Regions from separate parts of the Homo sapiens genome. Here region 1 is linked to region 2. The links come from fine-mapping of genetic effects on gene expression. A gene starts in region 2. The other region holds a variant in brackets. All regions are shown on one strand. Distances are between the middles of the regions. Region 1 overlaps ADAP1 (ArfGAP with dual PH domains 1). Region 2 holds the start of ADAP1 (ArfGAP with dual PH domains 1).

What was found.
Region 1: its variant is fine-mapped to the expression of ADAP1 in whole blood (TOPMed, PIP above 0.99).

The regions. Positions count from the first base shown.
Region 1 is chr7:906,045-914,744 of GRCh38, forward strand. The region is part of intron 4 of ADAP1 (ArfGAP with dual PH domains 1); the gene reads right to left. Among named protein-coding and RNA genes, the nearest start is that of GET4, 34 kb to the left of the region's middle. RefSeq lists an enhancer at 1,658-2,356 and a silencer at 2,871-3,090. The variant C/G (reference allele first, on the strand shown) is at 4,887.
Region 2 is chr7:949,632-958,331 of GRCh38, forward strand. It overlaps ADAP1 (ArfGAP with dual PH domains 1), which reads right to left and starts at 5,049. Exons shown (of 11, transcript NM_006869.4): 1 at 4,765-5,049. The coding sequence starts at 4,846. It overlaps LOC124901569 (a long non-coding RNA gene), which reads left to right and starts at 5,223. Exons shown (of 2, transcript XR_007060178.1): 1 at 5,223-5,633; 2 at 5,737-5,859. RefSeq lists enhancers at 1-569, 3,499-4,110, 5,333-5,942 and silencers at 4,236-4,445, 4,736-5,225, 5,245-5,400, 5,256-5,355, 8,597-8,656.

The DNA of each region.
Region 1 (8,700 bases), 44 kb before region 2:
GAAAGGAGAAAGGAGAAAGGGAGAAAGGAGAAAGGGAAAGGAGAAAGGGAGAAAGGAGAAAGGGAGAAAGGAGAAAGGGAGAAAGGAGAAAGGGAGAAAGGAGAAAGGGAAAGGAGAAAGGAGAAAGGAGAAAGGGAAAGGAGAAAGGAGAAAGGAGAAAGGAGAAAGGAGAAAGGGAAAGGAGAAAGGGAGAAAGGAGAAAGGGAGAAAGGAGAAAGGGAGAAAGGAGAAAGGGAGAAAGGAGAAAGGGAAAGGAGAAAGGAGAAAGGAGAAAGGAGAAAGGGAAAGGAGAAAGGAGAAAGGGAAAGGAGAAAGGGAGAAAGAGAAAGGAGAAAGGAGAAAGGAGAAAGGAGAAAGGGAAAGGAGAAAGGGAGAAAGGGAAAGGAGAAAGGAGAAAGGAGAAAGGAGAAAGGGAAAGGAGAAAGGAGAAAGGAGAAAGGAGAAAGGGAAAGGAGAAAGGGAGAAAGGAGAAAGGAGAAAGGGAAAGGAGAAAGGAGAAGGGAGAAAGGGAGAAAGGGAAAGGAGAAAGGGAAAGGAGAAAGGAGAAAGGAGAAGGGAGAAAGGGAGAAAGGGAAAGGAGAAAGGAGAAAGGAGAAAGGGAAAGGAGAAAGGGGGCGGGAAAGGGGACATGGACAGGGGACACGGGGGACATGGACATGGGGGACGGGACATCGGGGACGGGACATGGGGGACAGAGTACATAGGGGACATGGACAGGGGACATGGGGGACAGGGGACACGGGGGACGGGACAGGGGACATGGGGGGACATGGGTCAGATGGTGATGGTGGATGGTTGGTGAGGGGATATGACAGTGGACCAGCGCTGTTGGCTGCAACCCTGGCCCAAGCCAGCCTGAGGACGGCCTGGATGAGCGGGACTCCAGCTGTCCTTTACTGGCCCCCAGGGACCCTCCCCATCCTGAGTGGACATGGCCAGAGCCACCATGGGCAGAGGCAGGGCTGGGTCCAACCTCGTGCTGCCCGGGAGGACCAGGCTGGCCTCCTCCCTCCTCCCTCAGCCGTCCGCAGCTGCTGGGTCCAGGTGGTGCCATCCCCTCTTTTTTCAGGAAAGCTCATCTGAGGGGAGTCCAGCTCAAGCCCTCATCTCCGCCTGTGGCCTCACGCACACCACACACAGCCACAGAAAAGTAGCCCGGGCATCCCCCTGGGAGCCTAAGCACCTGGACACGCCACCTTCTATGGCAAAACACACCGTGCACGGGTGGTTAGGACGCTGCTGTGGCAGACGATCACAGGGGAGGGAGGCAGAGATATGAGGACAGGAGGGAAGGGGACGTGGCCGTGGAAACTGAGGCCAGAGGGGGCCCCAGAGCCCAGGAGCACCAGGGAGAGGCCAGAGGACCCGTCCTGAGCCCAGAACCAGCTCTGCCCACTCCGAGTCTCGGGCCCGTGGGATCGTCCTGGAGCTCTGCCAGAGCTGTGGGAGAACAAACACGTGTGGCTTCACGTCACTGAGCTGCGGTCAGTGACCCACGTGTGGCCACTCAGAGGGGCGTTCCCATCCCCCCCAGGCCCCGCTCCCACTTCTGCTCCCTGTCCGTGGTTCCTATCGTTGCCCGTCCTTTCTCCTGCTCTGGAACTCTGTGTCCTGCGGACTCAGATGCAGCTTCTTCTATGGCCCTGGCTGTCCCGCCCCAACAGCATGTGGCTTGCAGCATCCGTGTCCTGGGCTCCGTCTGCCAGGCCTTGGGTCGCGTGCAGGTCCCGCCGTTGGCAGCAGCTGCGTGGCCAGGGTCGAGCAGGTCCTCAGTGGGTGCAGACTCTCCTGGGATCACGGGGCCGTCTGCCAAGCATCCCCAGTGGGCGCCGCCTCTCCGGAGGTCGCGGGGCCGTCTGCCGAGGAGCCGTCTGCCGAGCATCCGTGGCCCCTCCAGGGGTCGCGGGGCCGTCTGCCCAGTGTCCGTGGGCCCTTCCCGGGGTCGTGGGGCCGTCTGCTGAGCATCCGTGGGCCTGTCCGTGACCCCTCAGTGACTTCAGAGAGCACTTGCTTGGGGACAGCATCCCATCCTGCTGGCCATGTGGCCTGGGAGCCCCGGTCATCTGAGGGCAGGGGCTGCTGACCTACGCCACAGGGACGCGAGGGGGCTGTGGGCTCCAGGCGGGGCTAAACAGCCCCCTGCAGCAGCCAACAGGCCAGACAGAGGCTCAGATTGCAGACACCGCCCATCAGCCCTGACCACCAAAGCCCCCTGCTCCCCAGCATCCCCTCCCCAGCTCAGACAGCCCCATCCCGACACCAGAGACCAGGGGCTATTTTCTCTGCTGAGATGCAAGCCATAAAACGCCTGGCGTTGGGGAGGGGACAGCTGGTGCCCTCGGGGAGGGGGCCCTGGGCTGTCTTGGATGGTGCCAGACGGGGCCTGCTCCCCTCACTGCCCGGAGCTCCCCGCTCCCCAAGCCTCTACAAGGCTGCTGCCCCAGCCCCGTGCGCACAGCAGCAGCCAGGAGCCCCCTTCCCATGGAAGAACCCCCTTCTCCTGCTTCTCACTGTGAGAGCGAGGCCACCAGTGTCCCTCAGACCCAAGTAAGGCCTGCTCAGAACGCCTGTTGACTCAGTGAGCCCCTGCCCAGGCACAGCTGGGTGTCCCCACGGCTCTGCCTCCGACATCAGGACCTCTTTGGACGCGGCGCTTCGTGGCTGAGGGTGGACGCCGAGAAGTGCCCGGGGAGGCATCGCAGCAGCGGGCCCAGCGGCGCTTCCCGGCCTCTGCCGCTCACGGCCTTGTGTGCACCCCGGGGAGCCTCCAAGGCGTGCGTGTCCGTGTCACCAATGCAGACGACAAGTTTGGGCCACCTCGCCCACGGGGGTGGAGCTGGCTGGGTCCAGTGTGTCGGTTCCACAGACCCCTGCCCAGGACACAGCGGGGGCCCCTTCCAGCGACCGGGCTCCCTAGGCCACAGGGTGGGGACGCGCCCCTGCCATGCCCGCCGCGCCCAGCAGGTGACAGCAGTGCTCCGGAAGCGCGCAGGCCGCGGGGTCTGGGAGGCCACTGCCCCTCTGCACGCGCGCAGCTGCTCCGGTGTTCTCGGGGTCCAGACGCCAGCGGGAACCCCGGTCCTCCCGACAGCAGGCGCCAGCGGGAACCCCGGTCCTCCCGACAGCAGGCGCCAGCGGGAACCCCGGACCTCCCGACAGCAGGCGCCAGCGGGAACCCCGGTCCTCCCGACAGCAGGCGCCAGCGGGAACCCCGGACCTCCCGACAGCAGGCGCCAGCGGGAACCCCGGTCCTCCCGACAGCAGGCGCCAGCGGGAACCCCGGTCCTCCCGACAGCAGGCGCCAGCGGGAACCCCGGTCCTCCCGACAGCAGGCGCCAGCGGGAACCCCGGTCCTCCCGACAGCAGGCGCCAGCGGGAACCCCGGTCCTCCCGACAGCAGGCGCCAGGACGCCGCATTCCAGGGGCAATGACGACGCAGGAGTGTATTTCAGGACGGCGCTGGCCACGGTCCCGGACGCGCCCCACGCCCAGTCCAGACCTCAGGCTGAGCCTCTGCTCTCCCCATGCCTGGCCAGCCCCTTGGCCTCGCTGGGGAGGGCCAGGACCTCAGGGGCCTGCAGCCCCCAGTCGGCACCAGCAACAGCCAGTGAGACGGGGCTTCTCCCCACAGAGCAGCCCCTCACACGGCAGCGTCCTGGACAGCCGGGTGGGCTGTGGCCAGAAATGGCCATTTTCTCTTAAAGGACTCGTGAGTCCTGGGGCAGGACTCGACCAGTATTTATCAAACAGCTACCGCGTGCCGCGCCCTGCTGTGAGCTGGTCCCGCTGTGTGTCGGGTCCTATGGTGTGGGGTGGGGGGGGTTCTACTGCACACCAGGCCCTACTGTGTGCCGGTCCCACTGTGTGCCAGGTCTTGTCCCACCTGTGGGGAGCTGGGTCCAGTCCACACCCCATGCCCTGCTCAGACGCCTCTGAGGAGCCCTTCTGCCCACCGCACGGCTAAGAGCAGGAAAGACGTTCAGCATCGCCATGACCCACGAGAACGGCAAAACCAAACCAGTGTGCACACACAGGCGCCCGACTGTGGGCGGGGACGCCGGCCCTTCCACGCTGCCCGTGGGGATGTAAGGTGCCCCAGTCCCTGGAAAGCAGCCAGGCCGTTTCTTCCACCACAGTGAAGCGCGCACATCACGTGCCTCAGAGAGAAGTGAAATCCGAGGAAACAGGAACAGCCTTCACATAAAGCCCACACCCGTTTACGAGGCTTTTTTTTTTTTTTCCCCACCCAGGCTGGAGTGCAGGGGCACTATCACAGCTCACTGCAGCCTTGACCTTCCGGGCTCAAGTGATCCTCCAGCCTTGGCCTCCCGAGTAGCTGGGACCACAGATGCACGCCACCACACCCGGCTAAGTTCTGTATTTTTTTGTAGAGATGGGAGCTCACTGCGTTGCCCAGGCTGGTCTCGAACTTCTGAGCTCAGGTGACCCTCCTGCCTCTCCTCCCACCATACTGGGGTTGCAGCGTGAGCCCCACGCCTGGCCCGAGACTGCTGGGTCTTGGATTTGTCAGAGCTGGGACTGCACTCTAAATAGGATATGCAAAGTAGATGTAAATCACACCTCACGTATGTGATTTATATGCTAATTGTCTTGTAAACTGGGGCAGGGAAGCACGTGGCCCTGCTCTGAGTGACAGCTCACAGGGTGGTGGACCCTCTGGGGTGGGAACTGCATCCCCATATCTCATGGGGCCTCTGGCCTTCCACAGGGAGGGGTGCACCATGGATGGGTGGCCTCTGAGAACGGGGCCGAGGCCCTGATCACTGCACCCCGGCCGTCCCTGTGAAGGGCCTGGACCTGGCTTCCGGCCTTTGGGTCCTAGTGGCTCCTGCCCTCCCTCAGGAGGCAAACACCGGAGCCCACGG[C/G]AGAGCAGTGTCTCCTTGCTGGGTAAGGCCTTAGAGTTGAAGGCCTCCTCTGTGAGCCCGCACAGGGCTCCGTCTCTCCCTGCCTGGCCCGTCCACCCACGCTCTCCGACCCATTAATGCACCTTCTCCAGGTTGGTGCGTCTGGGGCCGGCAGAGGCTGAGAACCAGCGGGCCGTATCCTGCGGAGGGCTCCAGGTCCCAGCTTCGCCCTGCGTGGAGCTCTCTCTCCAAACAGCCAGGACAGGGAGGCTTCCCTGTTCCCAGGGGTGAGGCCAGAGGGTGGACGAGGGCTCCTGGGGTCAGCTCTCACCCTGTTCCTATTCTCATATAGCCCCCAGCATGGGGCCCGGCCCCCGACAGGCCTGGAGAGACCCCCCCACTCACACACGGGTTCACAGTTTCCACAGCGCCTTCCTGCCCAGAGTGACGTGTGGATGCCCCCATCCCCGCCAGGCTGCCCAGGCTGCAGGAGGGGCCACCCTCAGGGCCAAGTCAGCCCCAGGGTACCCCCCTCCCCAAGCCCCAAACCCTGAGGCCCCCACACAGGGGCCCCAGCGCCCAAGAACAGCGAACCCTGACTCCTGTAAGACAAACATGCCAGGAAAGGGGCGGGGATCACACGGAGGGCCAGGAAGGGGGCGGGGGTCCCACGGAGGGCCAGGAAGGGGGCGGGGGTCCCACGGAGGGCCAGGAAGGGGGCGGGGGTCCCACGGAGGGCCAGGAAGGGGGCGGGGGTCCCACGGAGGGCCAGGAAGGGGGCGGGGGTCCCACGGAGGGCCAGGAAGGGGGCGGGGGTCCCACGGAGGGCCAGGAAGGGGGCGGGGGTCCCACGGAGGGCCAGGAAGGGGGCGGGGGTCCCACGGAGGGCCAGGAAGGGGGCGGGGGACCCACGGAGGGCCAGGAGCCGACACCCACCCAGAGAGGGGCAATGGGGCAGCCCTACCACCTCTGGCCAGGCCCCAAACACCCGTCCCCCCGAGGGGCAGCCCCACAGCTCTGGCCTGGCCCCAAACACCCGTCCCCTCATGGGCCACGTAAAGCCTCGCGCTGCCTGCGAGGAACGGCTGGTGATGTTCCCAGTAGCGCCCTCGTGCCGCACACCATCGTCCCCACTATATGGACGGGGAAACCGAGGCCCCAGACCTCGTGCACAGCCCCAGCCCCCTCCTGGGCTCCGTCTGCCCTGTGACATTTACGGCAACGGTCGGCCCATCCCTGCCTGGTACCACCAGGAGGGGCCGTCCTGAACCACAGGGGAACCACAGAAGCTCCGACAGGAGCACGGGGTCCGGAGCCTAGAGCAGGAAGCCCCGCGTCTCAGCGAGACCAGGGCCTGGCCCTCAGGACAACATGAGGCATTGTCCAGGCCCCTGTGAAAGCCGCCATTGAGGCTGCGGCCCGAGGCGGGGCCAGCCCGCGGTGGGAGCAGCTGTCACCAGGGTCACCCCCAGGGGCAGGCGGGGGGCAAGTCTGGCTCAGACACAAGGATAAACCCCCACATCTGGGGGAGGGGTGCGGCGCGTCCCCACGCAGTGACCTTGGCCCAGGGAGGCGGCGCAGAGGGTGGGGGAGCCCTGCTGGCTCAGCGGGCTGAGGTTCACCTGGGGCCACAGCGACGCACCTTCCGCTACGCACCGACACCAAGGGCTTCTCCCCCGGTCCTTTGTCGTCAAAGAGCATCTTGGGGAGACACAGCGGCCACAGAGGGGCTTCCCTGCCACAGGTTACTGCAACGTGCACCTCGAGAGGTGTTTCCGCTTCCCTCACTCCTCTTGCATTTATTTTATTTTGATACGGAATCTCGCTGTTGCCCAGGCTGGAGTGCAATGGCGCGATCTCGGCTCCCTGCAACCTCCGCTTCCCAGGTTCAAGCTATTCTCCTGTCTCAGCCTCCTGAGTAGCTGGAGCTATCACGCCAGGCCTATTTATTTATGTTTTAAGACAAGGTCTCTCTGTGGCCCACACTGGAGTGCAGTGGTGCAATCACAGCTCACTGCAGTCTTGACCTCCTGGGCTCAGACCATCCTCCCACCTCAGTGTCCTGAGTAGCTGGGACCATAGGCGCCTCCATGCCCAGCTAATTATTAAACTTTGTCTTGAGACGGAGTCTCCCCACGTTGCCCAGGCTGGTGTTGAACTCCTGGCTCAAGCAACCCTCCCACCTCGGCCTCCCAGAGTGCTGCAATGACAGGCATGAGCCCCGGTGCCCGGCCTTCTTTTGTATTAACTGGAATTCGTGTGCAAAGGCTGCTGGCCTCCTCCCCTTCCTTTTTTTTTTTTTTTTTTTTGAGACGGAGTCTCGCTCTGTCGCCCAGGCTGGAGTTTAGTGGCGTGATCTCCACTCACTGCAAGCTCCACCTCCTGGGTTCACACCATTCTCCTGCCTCAGCCTCCCAAGTAGCTGGGACTACAGGCGCCCGCCACCACACCCAGCTAATTTTTTTGTATTTTTAGTAGAGACGGGGTTTCACCGTGTTAGCCAGGATGGTCTTGATCTCCTGACCTCGTGATCCGCCTGCCTCAGCCTCCCAAAGTGCTGGGATTACAGGCGTGAGGCACCGCGCCCGGTCCTCCCCTTTCTCTTTACTTGTTCCATTCTTTATGTATATGTCTATGGACTTGGGGGTGTGTACCTTGCTCCCCTGTTATAATCCCCTTATACCATCTTCCTTTTGTTGCTCAAATTACTCCCCCAGCTTTAGCCATTAAAAGCTCCTTCAGAGGCCAGGTGTGGTGGCTCACGCCTATAATCTCAGCACTTTGGGAGGCCGAGGCGGGCGGGTCACCTGAGGTCAGGAGTTCCAGACCAGCCTGGCCAACATGATGAAATCCTGTCTCTACTAAAAATATAAAAATTAGCCGGGCGTGGTGGGGGGCGCCTGTAGTCCCAGCTACTCAGGATGCTGAGGCAGGAGAATGGCGGGAACCCGGGAGGTGGACATTGCGGTGAGCTGAGACCGCACCATTGCACCGCAGCCTGGGCAACAGAGCAGGAAAAAACAAACAAACAAAAAACTCCTTCAGAAAAGCCCGGTGGTGATCCTTCCTTTTGGGTGGCCTAACAGAGGGATGGAGTGGGGCTCCGCCTTCCTCAGCCATGGTCCTGGGTGGCGTGGCCCACACACAGGACATCTGGGGCCCCCGCCCTGTGAGAACAACCCGGCCATTTCCACCCACAGCCAAGGTGCAGGCTGTGGGCACTGGGCGTGGCACAGCCTCTAGGAGTTCTTGGTTCCGGCTCATTCCAGGGCAGACCTGCAGCCACTCCTCTGTGCAGAGCGGGAGCCACCTGGCCCAGGCCTCACCTGGCCAACGTGGGGTTGTGGGTGTGGCAGGCCCTTCCCAAGCCCCGAGCTTCCCCTTCCTCCCGGGCCCTGCCGCAGGGACTTCTATATTTCCCTGTGGTCGTGAGGTGTCGCCACTGCCGTGATAAAGGGCTCTGGTGGCAAAGCCAGGGAGCAGGGCAGGAACGCCGCCGGGAATCCCCAGTGCACTCTGGGAGGGGTTGGGAGGCCCGGGAACTGCCAACTGGCGCTGGAGCCCTGTGGAGGAGGCTCTGCCCACGGGGCCGCCCCAGACAGGAGGACACGTCCTCTCCTGCTGCTGCACCCACCCAGACATGGGCTCAGGGTGGGGGCCATGGGGAGGCTCGGGGGGTCCCTGAGGTCTAACCCTGAGCACCAGATGGACACCTGCTCCCTCATCCATCCAGCAAAGGGCAGAACCTAGGGTTCCAAATAGCAGCGGGCAGCTAGGTCTGTGGGAGAGGTGCCCTGGAGCCCCTGAACACACAAGGAGACAGGCAGGGCATCTC
Region 2 (8,700 bases):
GCCCACACCACAGCTCCGGTGCATTTGGAGAGGGGGCCCAGTCTAGGCTGAAGTTGGGGGGAGCCTGGCCAGGGCCTGGGCACCAGGCGCAGGACAGAGGGAAAGGCCTCCAGCTCCTCCCAGCCCTGAGTGCCAGCTCATCGCCCACACCAGCCCTCCACACCCGGCCACAGGGCAGGCAGGCAGGAAGCGGGCACGTGTGACCTGCTGGCCTGTGGCTTGAGTGCAAAACCAGGTAGGGGAAACCTGTCTAGCAGTTCTTCAACCAGGTAAGCACAGAATCGCCATGGGACCCAGCAACTCCAGTCCTGGGTACAGACCCAAACAACCTGAAGCAGGGTCTCAGAGAGACATCTGCACCCTCGTGCTCACACAGCACGATTCACAATGGCCCAGAGGTGGGAGCAGCCCAGTGTCCGCCTGCAGACAAACGGGCACACGCAATGTGGTTCATCCACACAGGGTATGATCCTGTCTTCACATGCAGGGAAATCCCAGCACTCGCCACAGCATCTGTGAACCTGGAGACGTTAGACTGAGTGAAACTGGCCAGTCACAAAAGAATGAATACCAGCCGGGCATGGTGGCTCACACCTGTAATCCCAGCACTTCGGGAGGCCGAGGCAGGCGGATCACAAGGTCAGGAGATCGAGACCGTCCTGGCTAACGTGGTGAAACCCCATCTCTACTAAAAATACAGAAAACTTAGCCGGGCATGGCAGCGTGCACCTGTAGTCCCAGCTACTCGGGAGGCTGAGGCAGGAGAATGGCATGAGCCTGGGAGGCGGAGCTTGCAGTGAGCTGAGAAGGTGCCACTGCACTCCAGCCTGGGCGACAGAATGAGACTCTGCCTCAAAAAAAAAAAAAAAAAAAAATGAATACCGCATGGTTTCACTTCTACAAGGTCCCTGGAGTCATAAGATTCATAGAGACAGAAAGTTGAGGCCAGGCACGGTGGCTCATGCCTGTAATCCCAGCCATTTGGGAGGCCAAGTTGGGAGGATGACCTGAGGTCAGGAGTTCAAGACCAGCCTGGCCAACATGGCGAAACCCTGTCTCTACCAAAAATACAAAAATTAGCCGGGCGTGGTGGCAGGCGCCTGTAATCCCAGCTACTCAGGGGACTGAGGCAGGAGAATCGTTTGAACCCAGGAGGCAGAGGTTGCAGTGAGCTGAAATGGCGCCACTGCATTCCAGCCTTGGGAACAGAGCAAGACTCCGTCTCAAAAAAAAAAAAAAAAAAAAAACAAGAAAAGAACAGAAAGTAGAAGGGTGGGTGCCCCGGACTGGGGAGAGGAAATCTGGAGCCCTTGTTGAATGGGGACAGAGCTTCAGTTTGGGAAGATGAGGAGGTTCTGGAGATGATGGTGGTGGCGGTGGCACGGTGAGTGAACGTGCTCAAGGCCCTGGAACTGTGCACTCGAAACGATGAGAAGGTAAATTATTATTTTTAAAAAATCCGGCCAGGCGCGGTGGCTCATGCCTGGAATCCCAGCACTTTGGGAGGCCGAGGCGGGTGGATCACGAGGTCAGGAGACGGAGACCATCCTGGCTAACATGGTGAAACCCCATCTCTACTAAAAATACAAAAATTAGCCGGGCGTGGTGGCGGGTGCCTGTAGTCCCAGCTACTCGGGAGGCTGAGGCAGGAGAATGGTGTGAACCTGGGAGGGGGAGCTTGCAGTGAGCCGAGATCGCACCACTGCAGTCCAGCCTGGGCGACAGAGCGAGACTCCGTCTCAAAAAAAAAAAAAAATATCCAACCTAGTTGGGCCGCTGCCCTGGGGAGTGAAGGGAGTCTGCCCAGCCCCCGCCCACACTCAGCAGCCTTCTTCCCACCCTCACCCATGCCGGCCAAATTCCTGAAACTGGGAGTTGGAGGTTGCAGTGAGCAAAGATCGTGCCACTGCACTGTAGCCTGGGTGACATCGAGAGACTGTCTTAAAAAAAAAAATTAGCTGGGCATGGTGGCATGGACCTGTAGTCCCAGCTACTCAGGAGGCTGAGGTGGGAGGATTGCTTGAGCCCTGGAGGCAGAGGCTGCAGTGAGTTGAGATTGTGCCACTGCACTCCAGCCTGGGTGACAGAGCGAGACCTTAAAATAAAAAAGAACAAAAGAGCTCAGACACCCCAGTCCTTCCGGGGCATCAGATGGCCTGAGACTCAAAGAGGACAATATGTGTGTTTTTCTTTTTTTTGAGACAGGGTCTCACTCTGGCCTAGGCTGGAGTGTGATCACGACTCACTGCAGCTTCCAACTCCTGGCCTCAAGCGATCCTCCGGCCTCGGCCTCCCAAAGCACTGGGATGACAGGCGTGAGCCACCGCGCCCGGTCCCTGTCCTCTGTTGCGATTTGGCAGGCAGCTCCAAGGATGTACGGAGGCACCCCTCCCTCCCCCAAACCCCCTCCCAGGATGGAGACCCCCACCCAGGTCTTGCAGGACAGTGGGTCCAGGCACGCCCCAACTCGCCCACCTGCCAGGCCTGTGATGAGAGGCTCTCTGGGTGGCCGCCGGGCGAGGCCCCCTGTTCAAGGTCAGGGGAACCCACTATTGGGACAGGTCATGGGGAGAGTTTGGAAGGAGCTTCTGTGGGGGCCGCAGAGACCCCAAGACTGCTTCCCTCACACGGCCAGTGGGTGGGGCCTGCTCAAGTCCACCCCAGCAGCCCCAGGCCTGGCGTTCAGAGGTGGTCTGGGACTGTCTGATGTCCTGCTGTCCAGGTCTGCACCAGCCGTGAGCCAGTGCACAGGACAGTGTTCTGAGGACAGCAGAACGTGCCGGCCACCCCAGCCCCCATCAACACTGGAGTGGCTCCTTGTCACCCAGCTGGGCCACAGCAGGTACAGGAGGCCCCAGAGCAGCTGGCATCAGCAAAGAAGCATAGAGCCCTCGAGGATGTGCCATGGGGTCATGGGGGGCTAGGCAGCCCCCTGCCTCCTGACACCGCCTGTTCCACCCTGTGGCCACAGCCCTGGGGAGCGGGGACAAGCAGAGCGGCCGGGTGTGGCTCATGTCCCCTAAGACAGCTCCCTTTGCAAGGCATCAGTCTCCCTGGCTGTGAAATGAGAGTGACCCCTCACAGCATCCCCCCTCCATGGCGCTACCCGACAGAGGAGACAAGTCACTGAGGTCATGGACAGATTCTGAAAAGGCAGAGGTGCGGCCCTCTACCCGGCAGCGTGGGGCATAGGGACGGCAGAGAACAGCTCTGGGGTGGGCCAGGCTGGAAGCTTAGCAGGTGGGCCGGGCACACCTGCACCCACTGGGAGGGGAGGACCACTGAAGGACCCAGCAGGCCAAGGAAGTCCCCTCTTCCTCCTGCCAGGCTGGGAGGCCCAGAGGGTGGCTGGAGAGGGGCCCTGAGTCCAGAGAAGCTGCTCCCAGGCTGTGTGGCCAGGGAGCAGAGGTTCAGAGGCAAGCCCAGCTCCCCTCCCCGTGGGCCACAGCAACCCCAGGCCAGGCCCTTTCCCACTGGCTTTCCTGGGGAGCGTTCCTGAACAGGAGGAAATAAAGGTCTGTGGGGAGAGAGTCTGGGGTGAGCCAGCCCAGGGGGCCACCCCCACCGCACCATTGCACGGGCCCTGTGGCCGTCCTGTCTCAGGAGACCATGGAAAGGCCGTGGGTCCTGCCTGTCTTTCCAGAAAAGCCTGTCGCTATCTCCCCTCTGGGACACCCCAGCTCCTGATGTGGCCTTTCCAGCCAAGCTGCAGCTGGACAGCAGCCACCACGACCTGGGGCTGGCAGAGACCCCTCCATCCCAGAGGGAATCAGGGACACCCCTTTTTCCGGGGTGTCCAGAGGCTGCATATTGAACCAGGGCCTTGGAGGCAAATGCAAGGTCTTCCCCCGCTCCCTCCCTGGGGGCCTCAGTCACCGCCGGTGAGTTTAGGTTTGTTCCGAGGGGCTTAGACTATTGGCCCCCAGATTCCTGGTGTGCCTGGGGTGGCGGGACTGCTCCGGCGGGGCCCTCTCTCCACAGCGCAGCCGGCCTGGGGCTGACAGCTCCCGAGCAGGGCAGGGCTGGTCTGGGCACTGGGCCCCGTTCACAGCCAATGACAGGACCAGTGGCCTGGAAGGGAGGGACTCCGCGCCTTTGGACTCCAGTGCCTTGAAATCCCACAGACCTGGGAACCGAGTCAGGGATGCCCGGCCGGGAGAACGAACGGGCGGGCGGCGGGTGGACCAGGACCTGCGTCCGGCCCCACCTCTCCCAGGCCTCACCTGTCCTGGCGCCCGCCCCGGAGCAGCCAGGTGCAGGGAGCCGGGGGCAGGGGCGCCGCTCACACCCAGGGACCCCCGGTGCGGGAAGGGCGTGAGGCATGACGTCACCGCGAGGTGGCCCCGGAGCCGGCGGACCCCACAGCCCAGCAGAGACCTCCGGCTGGCGGCCCGTTCCCTCCCTGCAGCCAGCCCCGATTTCCTCTTTCTGTGCGGAGCCCGAGCTTTCGCAACGCGGCGGGCGGTCCGCGGTGACCGTCAGACACGCAGCCCGGCGGGGGAGGGGAGGCGGCGGCAGGGGGGTTTCCGGGGGTCCTGGGGGGGGCCCCCCCGCTGCGCCCGGCCCGGGAAGACGTCCGGGTCCCCGCAGGTGCAGCCGGGCCCGGGCCCCATCCGAGCGCCGATCCGGCCCGGTGTTCAGCGCCGCCACCCCCGCGGCGTCCGCGCTCCCCCGCCCGGTCCCCGGGGCCCACCCAGGACCCGCCCGGCACCCCGCGCCCACCCCGGACCCACCCGGCCCCGCGCCCACCCGGCCCACACCTACCCGGGGCGCCGCAGTCCGCGCAGCGCGCGTTCCCCGGCCGCTGCAGCAGCTCCAGGACCGCCCTGCGCCGCTCCTTGGCCATGGCCGCGATGCGCCCGCGATGCCGATGCCGGGGCCGGGGCCGGGAGCGTCAGCCCGGCTCGCTAGGGCCCCGCGCAGGCCGCCCGCCGCCGCCGCCCCTGCGCCATCCCGGGCGGCCTCAGCCCGCGCGCCGGTTCCGCATTCCCGCCGCCCTCTGGGCTCCGCCGCCGCCGCTCGTGTCTCCGCCGCGGTCGCTGAGCGAGTGCCGGCGCGGGGCCCGGGGCGCACGCTGCGCTCTGGCCGGCAAGGCCCGCGGGCGGCCCCCAGCGGTGCAGGCGAGCGTGTGGCCTCCTCCCTCGGCCGCTCCGGCGCCCCCAGCCCGCGCGCCCCGGGGACCCGCTGGGAAATCGCCCGCCGCCCGCCCCCCATCCGCGCGCAGCGTCCCACCTGCCTGGGCGCGAGGCCGCCCCAAAACCTGGCCGGCCTGGGTGGGACCCTCGTGCCGCCGCGCGCGGTGGGACGGAGCCTGCACACCTACTGTGGGGGGCGCAGAGGGCACCTGCCGAGCCCCCCAAGACCATGGGCATGGGGGTGCTCGTGGAAGGCAGGTGTGCGTGTCCTGTGCTACGGACCAGGACCAGGGCGCTCACACCATCCCTGCCTGGGAGGGACGGCCAGCAGGTGACAAACGCCAGCGTCCCAGGGCACTGAGGCCACACAGGGCCCAGACGGAGCCTCCCCCTGAGACCCACCCAGCCGCCCACCACCCACAGATGGGACCCTCTGGGCACCCCTCCCACTCAGGCAGGCTGAGGGGCCCCGCCGGGACTTCACATGGGGGCTGACAGGTAACAAAAAACCTGGTTTTGATGTCACCTCTTCCCAGACTCGCGTGCCCTTCCTCTGCACACCCCAGCATCTTTTCAAATTCTTTCCATTTTCTTCTTGCAGGGTTAATGCAGTACACCCGGCTGAAAACAAACTGGAACATACCAGACTGAAAAAGGAAAGCCTCTCCCCACTGCCTTCCAGGCAACCACTGTTAACAAATTCCTCAGCACCTTCCAGAACGAACGTCTGAGGCCTGTAGCCTTTCATTTATTTATTCATTTATCGAGACAGGGTTTTGGCTAACGGCTGTAATCCCAGCACTTTGGGAGACCCTGGCGGGTGGATCACTTGAGCTCAGGAGTTTGAGACCAGCCTGGGCAACATGGTGAAACCCCGTCTCTACTAAATACAAAGAAATTAGCCAGGCGTGGTGGCGCATGCCTGCAATCCCAGCTACTTGGGAGGCTGAGGCAGGAGAATCGCATGAACCTGGCAGGCAGAGGTTGCAGCGAGCCGAGATTGCGCCATTGCACTCCAGCCTGGGCAACAAGAGTGAAACTCCGTTTCAAAAAAAAAAAAAAAAAAAAAAAACCAAACAAACAAACTCAAAAAAAGTTCAACTGAACCATGACTTGTTCACCCAGTCACTGGCATAGGGGCATTTAGAGCGTTTTGAATGCATCAGAATCATGGTCTACACAACCTCATCTTTGCAAGAGTTTTGTGTGGATTTGCTCTCAAAGTGGCATCGCTGGGGCAATGGTATGGGATGTGGAATGGCCTCCACTGAGGCTGCACTGACCAGAGTGCCACCAAAGGCACCTGTCCCCCTGCTCCAGCTGACGTGGAATCATGGAGCTGCTTAAGCTCTGTCTACCTGAAGCAGAACGCGGCAGCCCGTTTTGGTCTGTGTCTCTGGGATCTGTGCCCTGTGGCATCACGTGCTCTTTCCCTGTAACCGTTCACATGGGTCTTTCTCCTCCCTCAGACGGGAGGCTTTGGGGTGGGGACAGGTGGCATTTTCATCTCTGGGTCCCTGTGCCAGGCTCGGAATCCACCACACAGCATGAGCTTGGAGAATGTCGCCTAATAAAGACAGACGAACATTAATAGCAGCAGCTCAGCACTAGGTATTAGGAGAAATAGCCTGACTTGTATTTTCTATTTTCTTTTCTTTTCTTTTCTTTTTTTCCTTTTTTTTTTTTTTTTTTTGAGACAGGGTTTTGGTCTATCGCCCAGGCTGGAGTGCAGTGGCACGATCTTAGCTCACTGCAACCTCTGCTTCCTGGGGTCAGGTGATTCTCCTGCCTCAGCCTCCTGAGTAGCTGGGACCACAAATGGGTGCCACCATGCCCAGGTATATTTTTATTTTTTGGTAGAGACAGGGTTTCACCATGTTGCCCAGGCTGGTCTCGAACACCTGACTTCACGTGATCTGCCTGCCTTAGCCTCTGAAAGTGCTGGGATTACAGGCCTGAGCCACCACGCCTGGCTTGACGTGTATTTTCTTTTTTCTTTTTTTTTTTTTTGAGACAGAGTCTTGCTCTGTCACCCAGGCTGGAGTGCAGTGGTGCGATCTCGGCTCACTGCAAGCTCCGCCTCCCGGGTTCACACCATTCTCCTGCCTCAGCCTCCCCAGCAGCTGGGACACAGGTGCATGCCACCACGCCCGGCTAATTTTTTTGTATTTTTAGTAGAGACGGGGTTTCACCGTGTTAGCCAGGATGCTCTCGATCTCCTGACCTCGTGATCCGCCTGCCTAGGCCTCCCAAAGTGCTGGTATTATGGGCGTGAGCCACCGCGACCGGCCGACATGTATTTTCTTATTAAAGCCCCATTTTCAGCTGGGAAGACTGAGGCACGGGGAGGTTCGATCCCTTGCTGGAGGCCACACACCTCAGGACTGGAATATACATAAAACAATATAACAAAGCAACACACCCTAACATAGCCGTTACCCAAGGTCCCCAAAGACGGGGAGGCCATCATACAAGGCATAGAAAAGGCAGCAGGGAGGCCTCAGGGGAGCCGGTGCCCAACAGGCCAGAGCTTCTGGCACAAGCCAAGGCCATCTACTGCCTGCTGTTCCGGGGCCTCCTCCGTGGGGCAGCTCCAGCAGGCGAGTGTCTTGCCTTCTCTGTCCTTCCATCCCGCTAAGGGAACTGTGGCATTGCTCGGGGGGCAGGAGGGCGTGAGGATGAGACAGAGGTGGGTGAACCCCTCAGATCTAAGAGATGTCGGGGCTGAGGGGGATTCTTCCAAAGAGGAGGCTGCTCGGCCGAGATCCGCAAGTACCTGCCTGGACCCGAGAGCACAGCCGTCCTGAAATCCTGCTGCCCTGACTGGCTGTGGTCAGGGCTGGGCGGGGCAGTAGGGGAGCCCAGGACTCAGGAAGAATCCGGAAGGTAACAGCATAGCTCAGGGTGGGCCAGACCCAGACCAGTGCTGGTCAAAGGCTGTTCCGGCCAGCAGCGGCTGGCGAGGGGCCTGGACAGGCGGCGTGCCTGCTCCTGCTCATGCCCAGTGGCCTACAAGCTCTGCTGAGCCTCCTGCCCCTTGTCACTGACCCGCACGGCTGCACCAGGGACCCTGACACTCATTCCTCAAGCATCTCCCTAGTCCAGAGCCAGAGGCAGCCGCCTCCTGTGACCACTCGGCCACACAGCAGACCCTGGGCAGGGGGCTCCCGAGAGCAGGGCGAGCTCCTCCAGCGTCGCCTGAGCACGGGGCCTGCGCGTGGTAGGCCAGCAGGCGACTTTGATTGGAAGCTGGCTCCTCCCAGGCCTGCAGCTGCGGGGTGAGCCTCTCAGCACAGGCAGAAGGGGGCTCTCCCCAGGGAAGGGGCAAATGGACTGAGGCCGGGCTGGGCCCTGCTCTGCGACCATCTTGCCCAACAGTCAGCCGAGCTTGCTCAACCAGGAGCTGCCTCAGGGGAGGGGAGGTTGTGGAGGTTCACTTCCCTCTCCACCCCGCACAGGGGCCGGGGCTAATTCAGTCAAATTATCTGCGCTTGGACAGCGTCTGGCACGATGGCCGTGAGCTCAGTAGGCCGCCCTGCAGGCCAAGCAGGGGTCTTCAACATCC